Regions from separate parts of the Homo sapiens genome. Here regions 1, 3, 4 and 5 are each reported to be linked to region 2. Evidence: microRNA targets listed by miRTarBase, many of them from high-throughput screens and not tested one by one. Region 2 holds a microRNA gene; each other region holds the end of a gene's coding sequence.

Evidence for each region. Region 2 holds the annotated microRNA hsa-miR-1253 (AGAGAAGAAGAUCAGCCUGCA, at 3,575-3,595, shown strand). A microRNA usually pairs through its seed, bases 2 to 8, with sites in the 3' UTR of a target mRNA and lowers its output. Matches are read on the target gene's strand: a 7mer-m8 pairs with bases 2 to 8, a 7mer-A1 pairs with bases 2 to 7 and ends in A, and an 8mer does both.
Region 1: miRTarBase lists GPR173 as a target of hsa-miR-1253. Seed matches in the 3' UTR shown: 7mer-m8 at 3,933-3,939.
Region 3: the mRNA of ZSWIM4 is a reported target of hsa-miR-1253. Seed matches in the 3' UTR shown: 8mer at 1,155-1,162.
Region 4: the mRNA of FOXRED2 is a reported target of hsa-miR-1253. Seed matches in the 3' UTR shown: 7mer-m8 at 1,596-1,602 and 7mer-A1 at 3,401-3,407.
Region 5: miRTarBase lists ASH2L as a target of hsa-miR-1253. The part of its 3' UTR that is shown has no 7-base or 8-base seed match.

Annotation. Positions count from the first base shown.
Region 1 is chrX:53,077,226-53,082,329 of GRCh38, reverse strand. GPR173 (G protein-coupled receptor 173) reads right to left here. Exons shown (of 2, transcript NM_018969.6): 2 at 1,715-5,104. The coding sequence ends at 4,587. Among named protein-coding and RNA genes, the nearest start is that of TSPYL2, 2.6 kb to the left of the region's middle. RefSeq lists a silencer at 1-98 and an enhancer at 4,681-4,740.
Region 2 is chr17:2,746,609-2,751,733 of GRCh38, reverse strand. MIR1253 (microRNA 1253) reads left to right here and starts at 3,552; the gene lies at 3,552-3,656. CCDC92B (coiled-coil domain containing 92B) reads left to right here and starts at 2,082. Exons shown (of 4, transcript NM_001355573.2): 1 at 2,082-2,323. RefSeq lists a silencer at 1,703-1,892.
Region 3 is chr19:13,830,527-13,835,640 of GRCh38, forward strand. It overlaps ZSWIM4 (zinc finger SWIM-type containing 4), which reads left to right. Exons shown (of 14, transcript NM_001367834.3): 14 at 1-1,728. The coding sequence ends at 524. MIR23AHG (miR-23a/27a/24-2 cluster host gene) reads right to left here. Exons shown (of 1, transcript NR_036515.2): 1 at 3,990-5,114. Among named protein-coding and RNA genes, the nearest start is that of MIR24-2, 3.3 kb to the right of the region's middle. RefSeq lists enhancers at 2,898-2,947, 2,998-3,047 and a silencer at 3,158-3,347.
Region 4 is chr22:36,485,696-36,490,820 of GRCh38, reverse strand. It overlaps FOXRED2 (FAD dependent oxidoreductase domain containing 2), which reads left to right. Exons shown (of 9, transcript NM_001102371.2): 9 at 554-3,631. The coding sequence ends at 813. Among named protein-coding and RNA genes, the nearest start is that of TXN2, 6.6 kb to the right of the region's middle.
Region 5 is chr8:38,138,479-38,143,478 of GRCh38, reverse strand. It overlaps ASH2L (ASH2 like, histone lysine methyltransferase complex subunit), which reads right to left. Exons shown (of 16, transcript NM_004674.5): 15 at 4,604-4,663; 16 at 3,399-4,515. The coding sequence ends at 4,408. It overlaps STAR (steroidogenic acute regulatory protein), which reads left to right. Exons shown (of 7, transcript NM_000349.3): 7 at 1-779. Among named protein-coding and RNA genes, the nearest start is that of STAR, 10 kb to the left of the region's middle. RefSeq lists a silencer at 4,994-5,000.

The DNA.
Region 1 (5,104 bases), not on the chromosome of region 2:
CGCCAATCGCCGAAGCCCCGCCCACTCCTGACGCAGGGGTCCGCTCGGCCTGGCCATTGGCTGCCGGCCGCCGCGGCGGCGATCGCGCTCCCGCGACCCCTGCCCGCTCTCACGCAATCCGCTTGCCAACACCACACATCATCAGTTTCCGATTGGCTCCCCTCGGGCCCGCCAATCAACGGGCTGACTCCCTCAGCGACGGGAGGGAAACTGCAGGGCGATTGGCTGCGAGGAAAGCTGGGGAAGAAGCCCCTCTCCCTCACCCTCTCAGCGTTTTATCCAATGGGAAAAGTACCAGTGGTTCTGAAGACCAAAAAACGAGACGAAAAACAAACGCAGGCGCTGAGCAGGATGTGCTCACATGAAATTGGAAGAGCCTCGTTATCGTTCCCCCCGCCCCCCTCCCCTCAGCAACTACGCACTTTTAAAATCTGCCCCTTCCCCCATTTCCTTCAGCTCCTTCCCCCACCCCCGCTTCTGCCCCTTCCCCCATCCCGGGTCCTGCCCCTTCCCCCATCCCAGCTCCTGCCCCTTCTCCCACCCCCGCTTCTGCCCCTTCTCCCATCCCCCACTGCTGCCCCTTTTTCCATCCCCGCTTCTGCCCCTTCCTCCACTCCCCGTTTCTGTCCCTTCCCCCACCCCCCGTTTCTGCCCCTTCCCCCATCCCCCGCTTCGGCCCCTTCCCCCACCCCACCCCCGCTTCTGCCCCTTCACCCCCCGCTTCTGCCCCTTCCTCCCCCGCTTCTGCCCCTTCCCTCACCCCCCCTTCTGCCCCTTCCCGCATTCCCTGCTTCTGACCCCCATCCCCCAACTGTCTCTTCCCTCACCCCCACTTCTGCCCCTTCCCCTATCCCCCAACTTCTGCCCCTTCCTTCACCCCCCAACCCCACTTCTGCCCCTTCCCTCACCCTCCCGCCCTCCGCTTCTGCCCTTCCCCTATCCCCCAACTTCTGCCCCTTCCCTCACACAACCCCTGCCCCCCGCCCCCCCGCTTCTGCCTCTTTTCCTACCTTCCACTTCTGCCCCTTCCCCCACCCCCCACGTTTGCCCCCTGGGTGAACTCTGCTGTAGCTCCTCGGGGGCTCGGGCTGCCCTACCGCCTGCGCCTGCAATTTAGGCACCCAGGGTGTTTGGTTTGGGGGCCAGGTTTTGACGTGGCGTTTTCCATCTCCGCAAAATGGCTCTACAAATAATAATCACACACACAAAAAAGTAACTTCCTCTGCGTCATAAAAATGATTGTGATTCAGCTCATCTGCTAGAATTTTCTAGCACTTTCTGTCTCTTCATTTCTCCCCCTTTCCATCCTTTCCTCTCCCTTTCCCCAGTGTATGCTGTATTTTAAGATTTTTCTTTTTAAACCAGAGATGGATGGTCTTTTGTGAGGCATGGTGGTGGAGGGCTGGCTTTGGTGCTGGGATTCACATCATGGGTGTGCCCCTCATTTTGTAACCTTAACCAAATCACTGCCCCTCTCTGAGCTTCAGTTTTCTCTCCCCTAAATTAGGCATCCCTCAAGAGAGGTGTAGGTAACTGCCCATTGCAGCCTTGTCGCGGAGCAGAGAGGAGACCTAGGGATCCATCATCAGGGGAGTGGATAAGAAAAATGTGATATATGTTTTAGATGGACCACTAGAATGAATTAGATCTATATACGGCAACATGGCTGGATCTCTCAAAGACAGAATGTTGAGTGAAAAAAGAAACAACAAGATTTATAGTACAATACTGTTTATGTAAATTAAAACACACAGCAATACCATACATTTTTCACAGATACACATATATGTAAATAAACACATGAACGGTGGATTGGAAGGACGTACGTTAAATACACGAGAGTGGGTGCCTGTGTAGGGGGCGGGGAGGATGGGATCAGGAATGGGTGATGAAGGGGACAAAACTGAAGAAAAAAAAATAAAAGGGCCTCACATGGACCAATGATGATATAGTGTGCCAAGAACTGAGGAGTATGGTCAACTCAATTCTGTGCACCTGAGAGAATAACCAGATAGTAAATTAACTGTCTAGGGAGCAGGCTGGCTGGGTAGACTCCTGGGCTTGGGTTTTTTTTCCCCATGACATCCCTCCCTCTAAATTTGGTCAAAGCTGACCAAAGTCCCAGCTGCATACAGTGGCCCCTAGGAAGGGCTCCCATCCCAGACTGAGCAGTCCCTCCAGAAGCCATTACTTTGTGGGGGGCATTTCCTAACCTCATCAGTTTCCCTCACATTTGATCCTCAATTCCCAGTCCCCATTCTCCATGGTGGTCCAATTTTAGGAACACCTTGTTTGAGTTTGGGAAGGAGACTGAGACGGGGTTGAGATGGGGCTACAGGCTTTGTGAGGAGATGAGGTTTTCAAGTTCCCTGGCGGCCCCAGCCCTCCCGTGCTCAGGGCCTGGGCCAAGGGAGGCCCATCTTGTGAGATGGGAGTCTACCCTCTTGCTACCGACCTATGTAGTTTCCAAGATCCATCTCTTGACCACTCGACTTCCTACCACGGGCACATACTCTAGTTTGTCTCCTCTCAACTGTGGTGTGTGTGTGTGTGTGTGTATGCATGCACGTGCTGTATCTGTCCCCATATACAGGCATTTTACGTGTGTGCACCGGGCAAGTTTTCTTCAGGAGTGCCTCCCCACACAAAGTCACACAGACACACACTATCACTCAATCATGTCTCTCCACATGTGGTCAGACAGGGCACATGCACGCACGCACGCACACACACACACACAGTCAGAAAGAGAAAACATCCAGTATAGCATTGTTCATTTCAGTTTTTCCATTTACAAAATCCAATGGTGAATCCAGGCAGTTAGAAAAAAGAAATGGAGGAAAACCCTCCTAAATGTACCCTATCTACCCCCCACCCCCTTGGTCTTCCCACCCCACCCCCTCGGAAAGGCACCCCCATCACTATCGCTGAGAGAACAGGCTCCCCTACTCCCAGCCTCTCAGCCACTCTGGCCTGCCTTTCCAGGGCCACTCTGCAGCCAGGCTCATTAATGTCTCTCCTGCCTAGAGTGCCCTCCCCATTCTGTATGGGTCAGGCTTCCCCAGTTCTGGGGCTCTCTTGGGCTAGGGAGGGAGTTTAGGACAGGGACTTCTATAAAGAAGGGAAAGGGGGATGGATAAATACAGATTCCGGCCCCACAGGAAGTGAGAGGGGGACAGAGAGCCTGGGTAAGACCAGGGCAAGGAGTGCCAGCTTGGCTCACCAATCCACAGAACAGGCCTCAAAGTAAGCCCAGAGTGGACTCCACCCCTGGGAGGAGGCTTGGATCTCCCTCCTGGAGAATCTGACTGCAGTGTGCTCCACTTTGGGTGTAGGTAAGGGTGGGGGAAGGATGGGGAAGGAGGGTTGTTGGGAAAGAAGGATGCTTGGGGCTCAGGGCCCAGTCAGCCAAGGGCTACTAAGGAGGGGCTTGAGGCCCCTGAGGCTTGAGGGGGACAAAAAGAGGTCAGATAGGAATGGACTCAAGTCCACAGTGCCTTGGAGTTTGTACCGCTATCGGTTACCAAGGCCCCAAACAAATTTTCATCTTCAGAAGAGTAGGGTGAACCCGAGAGACAATTCTGGGGTTGAAATCAGCTCTGACCCAAGTCTCTGTGGTCCAGCTACTCTGGGGAGTTCAGCTCCCTCCTTACACTTTCCTGGTGGGCTGCTCCTGCCTGTATGGCACCCACATCAGTCCTAGTGGGGCTGGAGTGGATTTCCATCCTCAGGAAGAAGAGTTGGGGGCTGGGGATCCTGAAGGCAGCGTGAGAGAATGTGACCAAGTGTGGGTCTCTTCAGTTCGAGGAGTTCAGCTCACATCTTACTCTTCACCTAACCTGGGCCCATCCTTGGGGCCCTTCTCCCTACTCCCTTGACTTCTCCAACAGATGCACAAGAACCATTTGGGAGGTCTGGACATGGTGGGGAGGGAGAAGAGACTGGGCTTGGGGCAAGGGTTGGCCTAAAACAACATTGCACATGACATAGTAATTAAACATCCCTGCTCCCTGGGAACCCAGCACCCCCTTTGGTCCCTCTTGTCAGCAGCCTTGGACCACTTTCTCCCTAAACATCCAGGCCTTGCTAAAGGACTTGGAAGGGGAGGGTGCATGGGAGCAGAGGGGGCAAAAGAGCTCTGGAAGTCTATTTTACAGGACAAATTCCCCCTTCTGGACAGTGTCAGAAGGAGAGACATTAAAGTAAGAAAGCCTGTCTCCTCAGCTGTTAGTAGAAAAACCTGCATTCTCAGTGTTCTTTTCTTTTTCTGAATTGTCACTTCTGAGAGAGAGAGAGAGAGAGAGAGAGAGACAGAGAGAGAGAGAGAGAGAATGAGATTGTAGAAGTGGAGAAGGAGGCAGCGGAGACAGGCCCCACAAAACTAAATATGCCTCTTTCCCAGTCCCTCGCCCAGTCCTCCATCCTTGGGAGGTGTTGGCAAAGGTGCCTAGATTACAGGTGGTTCGAGGGGCTGGGGCTGGAGCTCAGAAAGGAGGACTCCTGTATGGGCCCCTACCCCTCCCTTGCTGTTGGCCCCATCACGGTGGCCATGACCTTCTCTCTGCCTGTCTGCCTACCAGCCTGCTTCACATGACACAGTAGGGTTCTCTGGGAGCCGGGGCACCTCCTGTGCCCCAGCAGGGGGCGTGAGTCCTCAGGCACTTCTTGAGGTCCTTGTTGAGCAGGAAGCAGACAATTGGGTTGACGGCAGCCTGGGCGAAGCTCATCCAAACAGCAGTGGCCAGGTAGCGGTGGGGCACAGCACAGGCTTTCACAAACACTCGCCAGTAGCAGGCCACGATGTAGGGTGACCAGAGGAGCAGAAAGAGCAGTGTGATCGCGTAGAACATGCGGCCCAGCTGCTTTTCACCCTTGACCTCGTCCATGCCCAGTAGCCGCCGGCTGGCTGCATGCCCATTCTGCCGGATACCCAGCAGGGTTGGTGGCATGGGCCCACGGCCAAAGCCGGCGATCCAGTTGGCAGCAGCCTGGCCGGTGGCCCCGGGACCATGGAATGTCCAGTTCTGGCTGATGGCTGGCACCATCTGCACTGGCTTCATCTTGCGGTGACGATACTCGAAGAGGAGCAGCTTGCCGTAGACAG
Region 2 (5,125 bases):
GCAAGAGACAGGAAGAGGGGTGAGGCTGGCCTTTCTGTTCCTCTCCCAAGGATTTCCTCAGACAGGATGAAGAGGGGCCACCCACAGTGCAGCTAGTAGCTAGAGTTCCTGCAGGGTGGGATTTGAGAGGCCTTTGAACAAAATTCAAACCCCGCAGCCTGTCAAGCCACCTAAGACAGTCATTCCTGCAACTCTCTGTTTGTTTGTTTGTTTGTTTGTTTGTTTTGAGATGGAGTCCCACTCTATCACCCAGGCTGGAGTGCAGTGGTGTGATCTTGGCTGACCGCAACCTCTGCCGCCCAGGTTCAAGCGGTTCTCCTGCTTCAGCCTCCTGAGTAGCTGGGATTACAGGCACCTGCCACCACGCCCGACTAATTTTTGTATTTTTAGTAAAGACAGGGTTTTATCATCTTGGTCAGGCTGGTCTTGAATTCCTAACCTCATGATCCACCCACCTCAGCCTCCGAAAATGCTGGGATTAGAGCCGTGAGCCACTGAGCCTGGCCCCTGCAACTCTTTAGGATTAGAATTTTCCAGGAGCAGCTAAAGCTTTTTAGTTGTTGACACCTGAGTCCAGTTAACCTTTGGAAAGTGGGGAGGACAGGGAGGAAAGGGACCCATAGAGAGGCAGGGTGCCCCTTGAGGCCTCCCCAGGGCCTCTGTGGCAAGTAGGTGCCGGGTCTCCCAGCTCTGAAGGTACAGGGCTTCTCTGAAAATTTGGTCCAGGAGGAAAGGCCAGGGATTATTTGGCTAGCCATGGAGTGGGGAAAGCCAGGCACCAACCCATTAGCCTGAATCCACTCAGCCCAGTCCTCCAGGCAGGGACAGGAATGACTTACCCAGAGCAATCTCTGAGCCACCTGCCACTCACACAATGCTACCTCATCCCTTGTCATGAGCACAGAGGCCTAACAAGCACTCAGCAGTACTGTTCTGAGCACTTTACAGGAAGGAATTCATTTAATCCTCACAACAACCCGAAGATCTTATGAGCTACATAGATCATCATTATCCTCATTTACAGATGAGACCAAGCCCCCGGCAGGAGGAAGATATTAGGGCAGCCACACTTTTGAGGCACACAGTGGGACTCCTGAAGCCTCCCACGTTTGGTGAAAACGGATCAACAGCAATGCCTCGCACGTGTTCTGAACTTTGGAGTTTTTTTGTTTATTTGTTTTTGACATAGAGTCTCGCTCTGTCACACAGGCTGGAGTGCGGTGGCACGATCTTGGCCACTGCAACCTCTGCCTCCCAGGTTCAAGCGATTCTCCTGCCTCAGCCTTCCGAGTAGCTGGGATTAGAGGCGCCCGCCACTCCCGGCTAATTTTTGTAGTTTTAGTAGAGATTGGGATACATACACCATGTTGGCCAGGCTGGTCTCGAACTCCTGACTTCAGGTGATCCGCCCGCCTCGGCCTCCCAAACTGCTGGCCTCACAGGCGTGAGCCACTGCGCCCGGCCTGAACTTTGGAGTTTATCAAGAATCTTCCCTTGGCTCTTGGGACCCTCATAGAACTTAAAGCATAATAATAATAATAAAAGAATTTTAGAAATAGGGCATCTTATCAACTGCGGCCCAGAGAGGTGATGTGACTCACCCAAGGCCACACAGCTAGTGAGAGGTCTGGGGCAGGTTTGCTGCTGCCTAGACACGGGACGGATTCCCAGCCCACTGGTCAGATCGCGCTTCGCCCCAAGCCTTGCCTGCGCGGCTGCGGGCGCTGCCTCTCCTTCCTACGCCAGGGCGGGAGGGGCGGAGCGGATCGCGGCCTGGCGGCCTGGGCGCTGTCCGCGGTGCTGATCCTTCGCCGCGCCCCTGCGCGCCAAGGCACCGGCGGGTTCCCCAGTTTGCCCTTCCAGCTACCAGCCAAAGCCAGCTCCGCGAGCCCAGCGGCCCGCTGGGGGCCTCAGGCCCGGTTCCCGGGGCTCTCGGGGCTCCCGGGGTTCCCCCTCCCCCCGACCGCGCGCCGCCGGCCTCCCCTCCCCCCGCCCCGCCCACGGCCCCTCCCCGCCCGTCTCAGGTCCCTCCCCTCCCCCTTTCTCTCTCCCGCCCCCCGCACCCCTCCGGCTCGTTCGCCAGTTCCGGTCACGTTGCTGGGTGTTTACGCCTCGAGCCCGCCCCCGACCCCCCTTCGGCGCCCCCGAGCCCCCCGGAGCCCCGGCCCGACTGCCCCGCAGCCTCCCAGCAGCTGATGGCGCCGCAGCCGGGGCGGGCGCTGCAGATCCCCGGGCGCAGCTAGCGTGGGGGGAAGAGCGCCGCCCCCACCCAGCCCGGCCCGGACCCAGGGCCCCGCCGGCCGGTGACTCCCAGGTCCCGAAGGTGAGGAGGCCGGTCGGTGGGCGTGGGGGGTGTGGGCGCCGGAGCGGCCCCAGGGGGGAGCAGCGCGGCCAAGCTCCAGCTCCCCCGGGAGGGCTGGCGCGGGGCTGGGCACCGCAGCGCGCGGGAGGCGGACAGGACTCGCGGCGGGCTGCTGGCAGAAGTTGTCCTCCACCGCCCAGACCCGGGCCCTGCCTGGCACTGCCGGGCGTCCAGAGCGGCCCGAGGTCGAGCCCCGCCACCTCCCGCCACGCACACCTTTATTTCTGCTGCCTTTGCCCTCCTCTCTGCTACCTCGCTTCCCCGTCCTCCTTAGTCTCCACATCCCCCCCCCAACCCCTGCCTTCCCTGGGAGTCATATTGGAGGCATAATCAGGGCAGAACCTGAAGCCTGAAGGGGGTGGGGGGCTCCAGTTTCCCCATACACCCCATTCCCGTGTGACTGGATCCTCAGCTTTGCTGAGGTGGAGGGTCCTGAGCGCTTCAGTGCAGGGGGCAGCCAGAGTTGAGGGGTTCGGCGGGGAGGGGCTCCGGAGTGGAGAGGACCACAAGGTCCCTGGGGAGTGTGGCTCCACCACTGGCCAAGCGGCCCCACCTTGCAGACAGAGTCCTAGACATTTGTCAAAGGCTGAATCCTTGTTCCAAACTCCAGTCCCCAGGAAAGCCAAGGATGTGGGGTTGAGGGACCAGCATACTTATTTTTTAATATGTGTATTTACTTGCCCTGGTGATTCCCAGTAAGACTCAATCCATTCTCCCTGTTTCAGCAGCATTCATTGTGGGCCTGTTCCTTGCAAGAGATTCCCAGAGACAAAGCCTTGCCCTCAGGAAGCGTATGGCTTAGTACAGAAGCCAGGTGCATTCAGGCACATGCACACACACACACACACACACACACACACACACAAACACGATGAAGACTTATGGCTTTGCACGGAAGCCAGGTGCGTGCAGGCATGCGTGCACACACACACACACACAGAACAAAGAGTGATAATATGGCAGACTGTGGTGCTAGCTGCCACCCAGATTCCAACAAATTGCCTGGGGAACAGAGAGGCGGGAGAGAGTCGTTCCATCTTGGTGGGGGATCAGGGATGGCTTCATGGTAAAAGTCACATCAGAGCAAGGCCCTGAAGGATGGGTCAGGCTTCAAGAGGCAGAGATAGGGTGGATATAGTAAGTGAGGGGATGGCCTGGCTACTGGGCTACTGGAAGAGTTTGTCATCAGAGCAGCAAGAGATAGAATCCAAAAGAGAAGAAGATCAGCCTGCAGATGTGGACTGCTAAATGCAGGCTGATCTTCTCCCCTTTGGGATTCTCTTATGAGAAGCCATAAACGCCAGGACGAGCACCCAGTGGGGTGCTTCTAGTTGCCAGGCACTGTAGTTGCAGATACTGAGCAAACTACTTTACCTTTCTAAGCCTGTCTCCTCATCGATAAAGTGGATACATTAATAGAATCTTCAACGTGGGGTTGTTGCCAAGATAAATGAGTTAATATATGTAAAATGCTAAGAACAGTACCAATTACTTATTATTATAAGTATTATTATTTATGCATTGATGCCATGTCCAAGAAAGGCTTCTTGAGTTCCTGCTTTCCGACTGCCCCAGGCCTCTGAGTCAGGCCATGAACAGGAATAATGACTAAGAAACATAAACCTCATATTGATTATTTCTTTTGAGATAGAGTTTTGCTCTTATTGCCCAGGTTGGAGTGCAGTGGTGCGATCTCAACTCACTGCAACCTCTGCCTCCCAGGTTGAAACGACTCTCCTGGCTCAGCCTCCCGAGTAGCTGGTACTACAGGTGCGTGCCATCATGCCCTGCTAATTTTTGTATTTTTAGTAGAGATGGGGTTTTGCCATGTTGGCCAGGCTGGTCTCAAACTCCTGACCTCAGGTGATCTGCCCCAGTCGGCCTCCCAAAGTGCTGGGATGACAGGCGTGAGCCACCGCACCTGACCTGATTCATTTATTTGTTCACTTATCGCCATGCTTGTCCTATCTAATATACCCGCGCTGACTATAAGAATAATAAAAATAAGTCTAACATTCTCCTTAAAACAAGAAAACATACATACTTAAAGAACTTTAAGAAAACATGGCTATTGACTGTTAAGAACAACACAAAGATATCTGTTGACTTGATAAATATTTTCAGTCCCAAACAGAAAAGAAACACTAGGAAAAGCTGAAACTGGGACAAGAGAACCCGCCAGTGAGTGAGGGGTGGCAGACAATGCAAACCCCAGGCAAGCAGGTCACAAGAAGTGTGGGGTCTGGTTCCTCTTCCAGCGACCTCCTCTGCTTGAGGGAAAGAAAGAGGTGGCAGAGGCCAGGGGACCTGGAGCAGACAAAAAGGGTGTGGGGAAGGTGAGATTTAGATACCCAAGGAAATATTGGACTGTAAAAGAGGTTTTCAAACTGCTGGTTAGCAGGCCAGGCGCTGTGGCTCACATCTGTAGTCCCAGCCCTTTGGGAGGCTGAGGCGGATGGATCACCTGAGGTCAGGAGTTCAAGACCAGCCTGTCCAACATGGTGAAACCCCGTCTCTACTAAAAATACAAAAAATAGCTGGGTGTGTTGGGTGGGTGCCTGTAATTCCAGCTACTCGGGAGGCTGAGGCAGAAGAATTGCTTGAACCCAGGAGGCGGAGGTTGCAGTGAGCCAAGATCGAGCCACTGCACTCCAGCCTGGGCGACAGAGGAGACTCCGTCTCAAAAAAACAAACAGCTGAAGCAGGGAGAGAACTGTAGTTTCCCACTTGCCAAGTCAGTTGTAACTGGGTAGGGAAGTGGGT
Region 3 (5,114 bases), not on the chromosome of region 2:
GGCTGCCGCTCCGGGCCTACAAGCTGGCGACGCTGGCCCTGGCGCAGCTCAGCATCGCCTTCAACCAGGACAGCCACCCTGCCGTCAACGACGTGCTTTGGGCCTGCTCTCTCAGCCACTCCCTGGGCCGGCACGAGCTCTCTGCCATCGTCCCCCTCATCATTCGCAGCATCCACTGTGCCCCAATGCTGTCCGATATTCTGCGCCGCTGGACTCTCTCGGCGCCCGGTCTGGGCCCCTTAGGGGCACGCCGGGCCGCCAAGCCACTGGGTGCCGACCGGGCGCCGCTCTGCCAGCTCCTGGACGCGGCAGTCACCGCCTACATCACCACCAGCCACTCGCGCCTCACGCACATCAGCCCGCGGCACTATGGGGATTTCATCGAATTCCTGGGCAAGGCCCGGGAGACCTTCCTGCTGGCGCCCGACGGGCACCTCCAGTTCTCACAGTTCTTGGAGAACCTCAAACAGACCTACAAGGGCAAGAAGAAACTCATGCTTTTGGTGCGGGAGCGTTTTGGTTGAGGGACAGTGGGGTGCGTGGGAGTGGGGATCCCCCTCGCCCCTGCGTCCCCCACCCTTGCTCTCCAATTAGGCCCACGTGGCATTTCAGTATTATTAAGTCAGGGAAGGAGCCCGGCTGGAGATGGGGGCAGGGGGAGCAGCATCCTGCCACGTGTGTGCCTGGGAGTCTGTGAGCAAGTGTGCAAGACTCCAGAAGCAGAAGCCATACTGCCACCCAGAAGCCTGGAAGGGGTGTGTGCTTGGGCTGCTGGTATGACCCCACTTTGGGCACCCCAAAAGCAATAGGCAAACTCCCCTTACCCAGACTGGCTTGGGCTCCAGGAGGGAGGCTGGGAGGCAGGACTTTCCAGAAATCGACCCTCTAAGTCAATGTAGCACATTTTCCCCCAACCCCACCCTGGGTGGCCAAGGGTCCTCCCCCACCCCCTACTGCTCAGGGCCCCCCATTATGCCACCTCCAAAGTGGCTGCCCAGCCAGGACCATTGGCTCACCCCCACTGAAGGAATTGAAGAGGCCTCAGGCCTCAGCCTCATACCTCACCCCCTTATCCTATCCGGCCAGGACCCCCATTTCCTTGGGCACTAGGGTCCCAGGGTGGGCTCAGGGTTGGGGAAGTCCTCGCTGCCCTCTCTTCTCACCTGCTAGTCACTGGACGTACAACTCAGGAACTGAGCGAGGCTCACACTGCCCCTTCCAACCTGGGGTTGGGGGACACAGACGCGAGAGAGCCGGAGACCCCCACCCCCGATCTGGAAAGGAAAGAGACCTGTATCTTGGTGTTTTTCTGGCTTTTTCACCCTTTCGCCTCCTGTCTTTCTGCTTCGCCCCTTCATCTTACTCTGTTTCCATTTTTCCCGGCACTTACCTGCCTTTCTCTCTGCACCTAAGTCCCTGCCGCCCTCTCTCTTTGGCCATCCTTCCTTTCCCCCACCTTGACCCAGGGAGGAGAAGGGAGAACATCACCCCCCCAAGTCACCCCCACATCTTTTCCCTTCTTGTATATTAAGGACAAAATACCACATCATTTTGTAACTTTTTTTCTATTTATTGAACGGTGTATTACATGTCCTTTTCCTTTTTTTTTTTCAAAGATTGAACAGAAATTTTTCTTTTTAATTTTATTTTGAGACTGGGGTGCATCTCCAGAGCCACTCACACCCTCAACCTCGTTTCCTCCGCAAAAAAAAAAAAAAAAAAAAAAAATGTCTGGCCTTATTTCTGGGTGCAGCGCCAAGCGAGGGGTGGGATGGGAGCGACTGCTGGCTTCATTCCATGGTAATTATGTAAATATTTCCCTTTTTTTTTTTTTGGTCTTTCTCTGTTGCCCAGGCTGGAGTGCAGTAGCGCGATCTGGGCTCACTCCAACCTCCACCTCCCGGGTTCAAGCGATTCTCCTGGCTCAGCCTCCCAAGTAGCTGGGATTACAGGCATGCGCCACCACACCGGGCTAATTTTTGTATTTTTTAGTAGAGACGGGGTTTCACCATGTTGGCCAGGCTGGTCTCGAACACCTGACCTCAGGTGGTCTGCCCGCCTCAGCCTCCCAAAGTGCTGGGATTACAGGCGTGAGCCACCGCACCCGGCCTTATGTAAATATTTCAAAACAGAGATGGACAGCTCACCATGAGGGAACACAGGGCTGAATGCGTTACCGCTGTCATTTAATCGTCACCACAGCCCTATGAGTTGGTAGGATTATCTTTTCCATTTTACAGATGAGAAAACTGAGGTTGCAAAGTGGAAAGAAAGGGCACCCAGCGGCCGGGCGCGGTGGCTCACGTCTGTAATCCCAGCACTTTGGGAGGCCGAGGCGGGCGGATCACGAGGTCAGGAGATTGAGACCATCCTGACTAACACGGTAAAACCCCGTCTCTACTAAAGATATAACAAAAAATTAGCCAGGCGTGGTGACGGGCGCCTGTAGTCCCAGCTACTAGGGAGGCTGAGGCAGGAGAATGGCGTGAACCCTGGAGGTGGAGCTTGCAGTGAGCCGAGATCGCCCCACTGCACTCCAGCCTGGGCGACAGAGCGAGACTCCGTGGGTGGGGGGCAGGGGGGAAGGGCACCTAGCTAGGACGTTTGATTTAGGACCTGGTTGGGGCCACTGACCCCTGCCCACCCCTGACTGCAGGGTCCTTGAGCCCCTAGGAAGGGCCAAGATGGGGGTGGGGGGCGCCCTGGCTCCAGACACCAATGTTGGGGGTCCTTGTCTCCAAATTGCTGAGCATGGGAGGCTGTGGCAGGTGTTGGTGCAGCTGGATGGGGAAGACACCCCGATCAAAAGCGGGAACCCCGGGTTTAGACTCGACCTCGGTGGGCGGGGCTCTGGCCAAGAGAAGAAAAACGGAGTGGGGGTGGTCTGTGCGTGGACACTCGCCAGGGGACGTGGCCAGGGCGTGTCTGGGATCTTGCGCCACTGAAGAGGCTCCCAGTCGTCAAATAGAGTGAGGGATGGGATCCAAAGGACGGCGAGAAAGCCCGTGGTTGTCTAAACGTCCCTGGCTCCCCGAGAAGCAGTTTCCTCGGGGCCTTCCTGCCTTTTGGATGAATGGAGATGCTGTGTCTGGGTCACTGCCAGAGCCGGGGCAGGAGAGGACAGAGGCTTCCCGGAGCGGCAGGGCCCGTCGCTAGAGGGCGGGGCCCGCAGTCGGGGGCGGGACTTTGGCGGCGCTGTGCATGGGGATTGGCTTTTCGCACCGCCCCTCCGCTCGAGTGGGCCAATCGGAGACGGCCCCACCTCCTGCCCCGCCGCGCGTATTCCAGCAGGTATGTGCGGGCGGACCCGGGACTGCCCCGCGCGCTCCGTGGCGCCGCCTCGAGGTCTGGGACGGTGGAGGTGGGTGGAGAGCCCGGAGTGCACCCCTTGTGGTCCCTGCCGCCTTCGGACCTGGGGGACCCTTTACTGTGCCCCTCAGGTGTCACCCACGAATGTTCCCATGTTCCTGGGGCGTCACGCAGGTCCCAGCCACATCCAAATGTCCCCCCTTAAGAACTGGGGTTTCCTTCATGTCACATCCCTCAAACCCAAGTTCCCCTCCAGCATTCTCAGATACCAGGCACCCCAAATCTTCCCCTGAGGCCTGAGTAATCCCGTAGGTCCAAGTTGCCCCCAAATGTCACTAGCTCAAGACCCTCAGATCCTGGTTATCGCCACATGTCACCCCTCAGGCTCAGCGTTTCCCTCAGGGTCACCCCACCACCACCACTTCAGATCAGCTTCCATCCTCCCTTGATCAGCGATGTGAAAATCTTTCCACTCTAGGGTTTCCCTCATGGTCACCCCACGATCCAGGACACCCCCAAGGTCACCTTTCCAAGCACAGGATACCCTGCTGCACAGAGCAGGTGGGGCAGGGATGGGCAGGCAGGAGCCCGGAGTGCCAGGATGGTAAATTCAGGCCAATCAAAAGCTGAAACTCCAGCGATGGGAGGCAGGAGTGAATCACAGACCAGACCTTCAGGAATGAAGTCAGGGCAACTTTTATTTACTTGAACAACAGACATGACACACAGCACGATCTCTCCTCTCCATCCCATCCCAAGCTTCTGTCCACGACTACCCAGGGTGGGGAAAAAGGCAATGGCCCAGCCCCGATGACCTGGGGGACTTCAGTGTGCCTCCTCAGTCCCACCCAGAAAAAAGCCTCCTCCCATCTGATTTCAAGATAGTGGAGAAAAGCCAGGCACGGTGGCTCACACCTGAGCCACCTGTAATTCCGGCGCATTGGGAGACTAAGGTGGGAGGATGGCTTGTGGCCAGGAGTTCGAGAACAGCCTGGGCAACATAGTGAGACCTGCCCCCCCATCTCTACAAAAATTAAAATTAAAAAAATTAGCCAGGTGTGGTGGCGCATACCTGTAGTCCCAGCTCTACTGGGGAGGCTAAGGCAGGAGGATCACTTGTGCCCAGGAATTCAAGGTTGCAATGAGCCATGATCACACCAGCCTGGCCAAGATGGTGAAACCCCGTCTCTACTAAAAATACAAAGATTAGCCGGGCATGGTGGTGGGTGCCTGTAAGCCCAGCTACTCAGGAGGCTGAGGCAGGAGAATCGCTTGAACCCAGGAGGCAGAGGTTGCAGTGAGCCAAGATCACACCACTGCACTTCAGCCTGGGCAACAGAGTGAGACTCCGTCTCAAAAACAAACAATAAAAGGCCAGGCACGGTGGCTCACAGCTGTAATCCCAGCACTTTGGGAGGCTAAGACGAGCAGATTGCTTGAGGTCAGGAGTTCAAGACCAGTCTGGGTAACATGGCGAAACCCCGTCTCTACAAAACATAAAAAAAAATTGGCCGGGCGCAGTGGCTCATGCCTGTAATCCCAACACTTTGGGTGGCTGAGGCGGGCAGATCACCTGAGGTCAAGAGTTCGAGACCAGCCTGGCCAACATGGCGAAACTCGGTCTCTACTAAAAATACAAAAATTAGCCAGGTGCGGTGGTGTGCACCTGTAATCCCAGCTACTTGGGAGGCTGAGGCAGGAGAATCGTGTGAACTGGGGAGGTGGAGGTTGCAGTGAGCCGAGATCGAGCCATTGCACTCCAGCCCGGGTGACAGTGCGAGACTCCATCTCAAAAAAAAAAAAAC
Region 4 (5,125 bases), not on the chromosome of region 2:
ATTTGATTCATGCACCAGCTTTCTGTTGTGGGACAGATGAGGATATACCCGTTTTTCTTTATCCCCCACACTGTTTAGATCAGAACTTTGCACATGGTATTTGCAACTCAAATGTTGTTGAGGGACTGCGTCTTTGCAGGCAGATCTGAGCTCACAGTGGAACTGACCACTGAGTTCCCAGCCGCACCAGGCCGAGGGTCTGCTCATGAAGGTCGGAGCCCCGCCCCCAGTGTGGTTGCCTGCAGAGCCCGGTGCTCAGCCCTGATGTCTGGGAGCTGAGGCATTGCTGTGGTTTGCTTTTATTTTGGAGCCTTGTTCTTCCAGAGTGTCAAGGCAGCCCCCTGCCCTGGAGCCTCGTGGAGGGTCATGATTCATGACCTACTCAGGTTGGACGTGAGATGCCCAGAAAGGTCAGCTCCCAGTTTCAAGGGATGGAAGATACCAGGCAAGGCCTGCAGTGAAGCCCCCACACCTGGCATTGGCAGCTCCCCTTTCTGCACCCCTCCCCACATGTCCCAGCCTGGCTCATTCTCCTCATTTTGCTTTTGTGTAGAGTCCTGCTTCCTGTTCGCCCTCACGCGCCAGAAGTTGCCACCCTTTTGCCAGCAGGGGTACCTGAGGATGCAGGGACTCGTGAGTACCGAGAGCCTTTGGCAGCACAGAGTGGAGAGCAGGCTCCTGCGGGACTATGCCCCCACAGGCAGGCGCCTGGAGGACAGCAGCCAGCAGCTTGGCGACCAAGAGCCACTAGGTTCCCCCCTGGCTCCAGGGCCTCTGGCTCAGTCCGTCGATAGCAACAAAGAGGAGCTCTGACTGTCCCTTCCTAAGCTGTGGGCACAGTGGCCAGGCCTCCCCACCTAGGCCCATGGTCAGTCCCTCTTTCCCCGCAACCTCACACTCCCGCCAATGCGTGATTGCCAAAGACCACTCAGATCATGGCAGTGTCTGCAGCAAAGCCACCAGATGGCACGTGAGGGCTGAAAGTCGGGGATGCGGTGGTCTCCTCCCTCCTGTCAGGGGGCAGAAGGGCATCCTCTGCCAGGTGGGAGCTGCCTTCCCCAGCCCAGTTTGTCTGCAATGGAGCTGTCGCTGAGCCCCAGGCCAGCCCAGTTCTGCCCCGTCTCAAGTGCTCCTCTTCCTTCCAAGCCCCTCCTCAGATGGGCCTGCATCCCGCCTGTGGAGTGCTTCACAGGGGAAACCCATCCGCATCTTAAGAGTTTGTGGCAAGCGCTTTAAAACAAAAGCTCTGATATCCTCAACAACCACAATGGGCAGGTGGGATTGTTGCCCCAGATGACTGCTGAAGACACCAGCTGTGGGATGTCAAGTAATTCCAGGGACCCCCAGCTGGGAGTCCCCGTCTGTGTCACTTGCCACACACTGCCTCAACCTCCCCGCCCCATTTTCAGCAGGGTTTGGGCTTAGCTACAGAGCCCAAGAGGGTCAGCCCTGCTTATCATCATAGGCCCAGCAGGCTGATCTCGAGCAGCGATAGGACAGCTCCCTGCAAAGCCATCTTAGCAACTTTCTCACTGAGAAGCAGGATTCAGAGCTGCTCTCCCCAGTTGCACCCCCTGACTCATCTTCCAGCTGGCTCTTCTCTCCCATCCTACTCCCTTCTGTCTCCCTGCCCTCTGCCATCCTGAACCATGCCTTGCTTCTAACCTGCCTGGTCAAGTTTTGTGAAACTTATCCTGCTGTCTCGGGCTGGCACCCATATGTGCTCACCATGTGTAAGGTGACATTTCCAAATGCCTTTGTGTGATAATGATGATGAATTTGGTTCCTAGTCTCTTCTTCATTGCCCTTCCTCACCAGCAATCTGCACTTTCCCATCAGGCGTCTTAGTCTCATTTGTAAGTGCATAAGATAATCACAGTGATTTTTCAAAGCCCAGGATCATAAGTGATTGCTTTTTCACTGGTTCTTACTAACTCTTCATGTATCCACTCAGAATTCCAAGGACAATCCCAGCACTCTGGGAGGCCCAGGCAGGTGGATCACCTGAGGTCAGGAGTTTGAGACCAGCCTGACCAACATGGAGAAACCCTATCTCTACTAAAAATACAAAACTAGCCAGGCGTGGTAGCACATGTCTATAATCCCAGCTACTGGAGAGGCTGAGGCAGGAGAATCACTTAAACCCGGGAGGCAGAGGTTGCAGTGAGCCGAGATTGCGCCATTGCACTCCAGCCTAGGTAACAAGAGGGAAACTCCATCTCAAAAAATAAGTTAATTAAATTAAATTAAAATAAAACATGCGCTGGGTACAGTTGCTTACACCTGTAATCCCAGCACTTTGGGAGGCCAAAGTGGGCCGATCACCTGAGCTCAGGAATTCGAGACCAGCCTGGCCAACATAGCAAAACCTTGTCTCTACTAACGGTAAAAAAAATTAGCTGGGCATGGTGGAGCATGCCTGTCATCCCAGCTACTTGGGAAGCTGAGGCAGGAGAATTGCTTGAACCTGGGAGGTGGAGGTTGCAGTGAGCAGAGACCGAGCCACTGTACTCCAGCCTAGGTGACAAAGCAAGACCCACAGTAAAGCCCCCACACCCCATCTCAAAAAAATAAAAAATAAAAAAGAACAAAGTATGCTACAACAAAAGTGAAAAGAGAAAAAGAATTCCAAGAACCCGGGCTTTCTGGATCCAAAGCTCTTTCATGGGGACGTCCTCTTCCCCTCTTGGCTTGGTCCAGACTTTTTCTTTTTCTTTTTTTTTTTTTTTGCAATGGATTTCGCTCTTGTCACCCAGGCTGGAGTGCAATGGCACGATGTCGGCTCACTGCAACTTCTGCCTCCCGGGTCTAAACAATTCTCTTCCCTCAACCTCCCAAGTAGCTGGGATTACAAGCGCCTGCCACCACGCCCAGCTAATTTTTGTATTTTTAGTAGAGACAGGGTTTCACCACATTGGCCAGGCTGGTCTCGAACTCCTGACCTCAGGTGATCCACCTGTCTTGGCCTCCTAAAGTGTTGGGATTACAGGCATGAGCCACCACGCTCGGCCCAGTCCAGACTTTTTAACTACCTGGCCCCACTGCAGACACAGTTCCCTCTAGTCCTTCCCAGAGTTACAAGAAGAGAACTCCAGTAGCCTTATTCTGTCAGGGACGAATTGTTTACCCCATGATAATGTAGGATATCATAAATTCTTCTTCAAAGGTTTTAGCCTGTAATTTGTTAAGTACATTGAGTTCTGAGATCCTCTCCAAAGAACCAATGTATCAGTATGTTCAGCTCACCTGTTCTTTGTTCTTCATTTTAACTTTTAATTTCCTCATTCTTTATGTCTCCTTGCCCCTAGTTTCAGTAAACAATCCCCTCCTAGCCTCTGTCACCTGCTCTGACCTGAGTCACCTTTAGTCACCTGGTCCGTAACCATCTTTCCTGTCTAAACTTCTCACCCCACCACTCTGGCTTATACCCCTGCTCTCTTTAAAATAGCCAGTCAGAATTAGCTTAGATTGTGCGGTCCAACCCTAGCCCATAGGGGAACAACACAGCAGTAGGGGGTACCTGCATCAGGGATAAGAACCCATTCCCCTCCCTTGTTCCGGTGTGCTCTCGCCATTGCACCATCCATGAGACGCACTCTTGTATAGAAGTAAAATTGCCTTGCTGAGAAAATGTATGTTTGAGTGCTATTTCTTTTGTGGCACTGAAAATTTATTTCTAACAAATTTGGGGTCTCATTTGGGATTCCCATCCTCCTCTGAGGAGGGTCTAGACCTCTCCCATGAGGAGGCACGTCCCACTGCCTTGTTGCGGTGGCCACAGGGGTAAGGAATCGAGACCAACCAGTGTGACGAATAAACCTATACTCTCAGCAAGGCAGAAAGAAACGGGCTGGCGACCTGGGGGAAAGGATCCTCATGTACCACAGCGACCAAGTAAGTGTGCAGAGACCAAGCTAAGAAACATCGCAGGGGTGACAAAGTATTTCCTTGGTGGTCAGGATATTCTGGGGGTTGAAAGTGTGCATGAATGCAAGGAGCCTCCAGCAGGTGGGGCTAAAGGATAGGCGAGACATCTCCAACAGGGGAGATTGAGCTTAACCAGGACCCAAGATGGGAAATGCCCCAAGTAAGGTAAGAGATAAAAAGGAGAAAGCTAGCAACAGTAATATTCCCCCAGGCCTAATGTTAAAATGTTAGAAGGATAATGAAAGGACCAAAAACAAAAGCAGCTGCTGTCCCAGACCCTTCTCCTATCTCTGATGTCCCCTTTCTTACAACCCTGCCTCTTGAGAATCGTCCCAAGAGCCCACTCACTACCGACCTAAGTACCTTTCCCTTAAAGGACTTCAACGTGAGATAGAGCAATGTAAAAAAGATATTCAGAATTTCCCTTTCCCCTCTTCTCGGGGGAAGAAAGAGACATGATCCATAGAGCTGCTATGGGAGCCTAGGAACACGAACACCCTCCTGGCCAAAACGTTCCTACAGCAGATCAAAAAACTCCCACCCAAGACCCCCAGTGGGACAATAACAACGCAGCCCACCGAGAAAATATGCAGGACCTTAAGGAATTGATAATAAAGGGGATTAAAGCATCAGTACCCCGAGGCTGGGCGCAGTGGCTCACGCCTGTAATCCCAGCACTTTGGGAGGCCGAGGCAGGCAGATCACAAGGTCAGGAGATCGAGACCATCCTGGCCAACACAGTGAAACCCCGTCTCTACTAAAAAATACAAAAAAATTAGCTGGGCATAGTGGCAGGCGCCTTTAGTCCCAGCTACTCAGGAGGCTGAGGCAGGAGAATGGCGTGAACCCAGAAGGCGGAGCTTGCAGTGAGCCGAGATCACGCCACTGCACTCCAGCACTCTAGCCTGAGCAACAGAGCAAGGCTCCATCTCAAAAAAAAAAAAAAAATTGGTACCCCGAACTCAGTATCTTACCCGAATATTTGATATACAGCAAGGGAAAGATGAAGGGCCTATAGAATTTTTAGATAGATTAAAGGAACAAATGAGAAAATACACTGGTCTAGGTCTCAAGGATCCTCTTGGGCAGGGAATGTTAAAACTTCATTTTGTCACTAACAGTTGGCCAGATATTAACAAGAAATTACAAAAGATAGAGAACTGGAAAGATAAACCTATAGAAGAGCTTCTAAGAGAAG
Region 5 (5,000 bases), not on the chromosome of region 2:
AAAAATTAGCTGGGTGTGGTGGCGCAAACCTGTAGTCGTAGCTACTTGGGAGGCTGAGGCAGGGGAATCACTTGAACCCCGGAGGCGGAGGTTGTAGTGGGCCGAGATTGTGCCACTGCGCTCCAGCGTGGGCGACAGAGTGAGACTCCATCTCAAAAAAAAAAAAAAAAAAATCTATGCTAGTAGATTACAACTTCACACTAGAGGAGTTCTGGACAAAGCTTTTAATTAGTCAAACTAAATTAAGGCTCATTAAAAGGAAAGGAACTACTGGGAAATTATGCAATTCAATAATTTAGACTCTGTTACCAGGATCTTTCATAAAAATTTAATTTCCATAATCATAACCTAAATGAGTTCTTAAAGAATTCTATAAGCAATAGCTGATTAATGGGCCCTGGAAGATGAAGATTATAACTGTTTATTTACCTAATTAAAAGGAAAGGCAGTGCCAAATATGAGAGGATAAACAATATTAGTTAACATTTCTGTTATTTATGATGCCAATTAGTAGTAAGATAATTCCACAGCTGTCAACTTTGTTTGGGGCTGGCAACTTCTCTGCTTAAACAGGCTAAAAGTTTAGTATTCTGGGAGAAGTGGCTGGAAGAAGGGGTAATATGGTGAAAGCAAATTCCCTTTCCCAGGAGTCAAGAGAATTTATGTGAGGTGGCTCCCGCCTGTAATCTCAGCACTTTGGGAGGCCAAGGCAGGCAATCACCTGAGGGCAGGAGACCAGCCTGACTAACATGGAGAAACCCCATCTCTACTAAAAATACAAAATGAGCTGGGCGTGGTGGTGCATGCCTGTAATCCCAGCTACTTGGGAGGCTGAGGCAGGAGAATCGCCTGAACCCGGGAGGCGGAGGTTGAAGTGAGCCAAGATCGAGCCACTGTACTCCAGCCTGGGCGACAGAGCGAGGCTGTCTTAAAAAAAAAAAAAAAATTATACACACACACACACACACACACACACACACACACACATTGGGATGGGAGGGGGGTAGGGAGGATGAAAAAATCACCATTACCACCTGAAGCTTTTCCATTCTTGTTTTAATAGCATTGATGATTTGCACCATTTGGAGATAGAGCTCTGGCTTATTTATTATAAAACAGGAGCTGGGCACAGTGGTGCCTACCCACAATGCCAGCTACTCTGAAGGCTGAGGTGGGAGAATTGCTGGAGGGCAATTCGAAACCAGTCTGGGCAAGATAGTGAGACCTCATCTCAAAAAAAAAAAAAGAAGGAAAAAACAAAGGAGTTGATGAAACCAAATTATGACAAACTAAATTAAAAAATTAAAAAATAGCATTAGTGGGAACACTGTGGTATTTCCTGAGGTATTAAAATTTTACAACTAGTAAAGGTATTTATTATAATTTATTCGGATTGTTTCTTAGTTTATTTTTGACATGGATAAAATTATTGTTTATCTAGGAGCCTCAGAGTTGAGAGAGGATAGTTGTAGAGAAGTATTTCTAAAATGGAATTATCATCCACTACCAGCTAAGAGAAAATAGTTACTTGTTTAAAGATACCTTAAAGCAACATATATTGTAGTTTCAAGAGAACAGGCTGACAGTCAAGAAATAGGCTTTTAACAAACCCACTGGTTTGCTGGATTCTAATTGCCTCCTTCAAACTATGTAATTGTGTCTTTCTGGTTTCTGTGGAGATATTTTCCCACTTGTTTAATTTTACACTGGAATAAAACAAGTTATCACTGTTGATCTGATTACAGAAACTATTTTATATAGGACGCTGTGAAGAGTAGATATTCTCTGAGCCCTTCAAATGAACTGTATTAAAACACACACACACTTTTGAAGTTTGAGAAGAACATCATTACCTGTAACCTTTGATTTGTGAAAATATATACAAAAAGCTAATTTTATAATTTAGATGGAGAGTGTGTATACAACTTATATGTGGTAATTTATATTACAAAGAGTTAACATTCAGCTTCCTCTAAATAACACCACCCTCATTTTCTTGGAGTACCTCAAACTCCGATGATCTAGAAGCTTTATAACCAGGTCTGCCCTTGAAGACTAGTTCACGCATTAATAGGTGTCTAGGGCTGAGCCTCAGCCTCCAATCACACTCGACCTGTATAGGCTTTCCTGTTCAGAGATATGCAGTGGCCAAATCAAAGTGTCTGGGTGATTCATCGGGAGACAAATATATTAATCAATGCTACTATGTTAAAATACCAATATTGTCTTGAAGTGTGGGAACTCTCTTAAACAGGAAAATGATAAGATATTCAGAAGAGCCACAGGCATAACATGGTGATTCTGCAGCAGCATGTCACCCTCCAGTGGTGAGCCACTCTACTTATTAACCGAGGTAGAGAGGTAAATGCAGGAGGGACTTTGGGCAATCCTGGGAGGGCTGTCTTTGCCGTAAGACTGATGTATTGAAAAAAGGAAGACAGGCCGGGTGTGGTGGCTCATGCCTGTAATCCCAGCACTTTGGGAAGCCGAGGTGGGCAGATCATGAGGTCAGGAGATCGAGATCATCCTGGCTAACACAATGAAACCCCGTCTCTACTAAAAATACGAAAAAAAATTAACCAGGTGTGTTGGCACGTGCCTGTAGTCCCACCTACTCAGGAGGCTGAGGCAGGAGAATTGCTTGAACCCAGGAGGCGGAGGTTGCGGTGAGCCAAGATTGCGCCACTGCACTCCAGCCTGAGTGACAGAGCAAGACTCCATCTCAAAAAAAAAAAAAAAAAAAAGAAAAAGAAAAAGAAAGAAAAGAAAAAGGAAGATAAGGAAATTATATATGAATCCAAAAGGAAAGGGTTTTTTGTTTTTGGACACAGGGTCTTGCTCTGTCGCCCAAGCTGGAGTGCTGTGGTGCAAACATGGCTCACTGCAGCCTCGAACTCCTGGGCCCAAGGGATCCTCCCACCTAAGCCTCCAGAGTAGCTGGGACTACTGGCATGTGTCATCACGTCTGGCTAATTTTTTTACTGAGAAGGGATCTTGCTATGTTGCCCAGGCTGGTCTTGAACTCCTGGTCTTGAGCAATCTTTCTGCTTTGATGTCTCAAAATGCTGGGATTATAGGTGTGAGCCACAGTGCCTAGAAGCCTCATTCTTTTTTTTTTTTTTTTTTTTGAGACAGAGTCTTGCTCTGTCGCCCAGCCTGGAGTGCAGTGGCACGATCTCAGCTCACTGCAACCTCCGCCTCCCGGGTTCAAGCAATTCTCCTGCCTCAGCCTCCTGAGTACCTGGGATTACAGGTGCCCGCCACCACGCCCGGCTAATTTTTGTATTTTTAGTAGAGACAGGGTTTCACCATGTTGGTCAGGCTGGTCTCGAACCCCTGACCTCGTGATCCACCTGCCTCGGCCTCCCAAAGTGTTGGGATTACAGGCGTGAGCCACCGCGCCCAGCCTAGAAGGCTCATTCTTACATTTCAGTCTTTAATAGTCCGAAAACTGCCCTTTAGCCATCAGCTCAGGGCAAAGGAAGATAAGCAAGACAGGAAACCACCCGCACATATATCAACATCCATGTTCCAAGGGAAGACCGGGAGGGAGATCATTAGCCCTTTTAAACTCTTGTTCCTCTCCTCAAGGTGGCAGATTTTCACAGGAAAGGGGGTGGCTGATTGGCAAGAATGGGAGCAATAGGAAAGCAGCCAAAACACAACTCAGAAACCCGGCTCTTCCTCCCAGTGCCAGCTCCCTTCCTCGTGCTGCTTACATTTCTGAACACTGTCACCAAGAGGCACCCAATCTGAAGGGAAGCAAAGTGTCACATAAACTTCAAAACAAGTTTTATTTGGGAAGTTTCTCATTTTGTTAAAGCTGCAAGCAAGTTTCTTTCACAATTACACTTCCAGAGATCTAGTAGTTTTACGGATCTCAGTGTTCAAAAGTGTATTTCAAAATGAACAAAACCAAACCCACACCAAAAGGAAATAGCGTTTAGATTGGTTTGGAATGTATAGCCATTGATTTCAGGTGTTCTCAGAAACAGGTTACCATTTCCTTGGAAAACAGGTGGGATACAGTCAATGCCCACAGAAGGAAATGTCTTTTAAATAAGTTAGTTACTCGGACAATATTATTCACTCCTTAGAAAATATAGTAGGATAACAAGTCACAGCTGGCAGGGTATGCAGTACAGCACCGATTTCACAGGGGGCTTATGCAATCCTGGAGTCAGCGGTTGTTGGCTTATGGTACACAAAATAAGAGCAGTCACTGGAAGTGGGGAGAAAATGGTGAAAGGCAGGCAGTCTCCCGCAGTCCTACCCAGCCTTTTAACTTGCTAAAAGGAGAGGCTGTGTTTTTAGCATCTTTGGGAGAACATTTGAGACAGTTCAAAAACAAAAACAAAACCCCCAGTATTATTCCCAGAAAGTCCTTGACAGAAAAGAGGGACCTGGTCAGGGTTCCCATGGGGGACTGCGCCTCCCATCCACTTCTGTCTCCACGTGATACAAGACGTCAGCCAGGGTGTGCTCTACCACGGCGCCCCAGCCCATGTCACTCATCTGCAGGAGGAATGAGAAACAGAACACGGTGACTACAGCAGCCACGGAGATGCTGAGGACACATGCAGCCATTTGTAATGTTACTCACAGGGCGGTAAGTGAGATCCTTCGGAGGATACTTGAAGCATGGTCCAAAGTTAATGGAAACCTGGAGCGAATTCAATTCAAGCAGACATGGAAAAAATGGACAAAAAATATTGGAAAAGTTAATTTGACACAGGAAATTTTCACTTTAAATGTGGCTACAATACTCGGGGGATAAATGGAACAAATAAGATATATATTAAATATTACTAAAAGTGGTCAACATCCTGATGTCCATCAAGAATTAGGTAACTAAAAGAGATCTGTGTTGATTTCTGTTGTCAAAGAAAAATAAAAATTCAGGATCCCAATTTGCTCTGTCAAAAGGAAAAAATTAAGCTGAAAGCTGAGTCATGCAAGAAACTGCCTTTCCTTTTGTTGCTAAGCAGACACCTACAGAT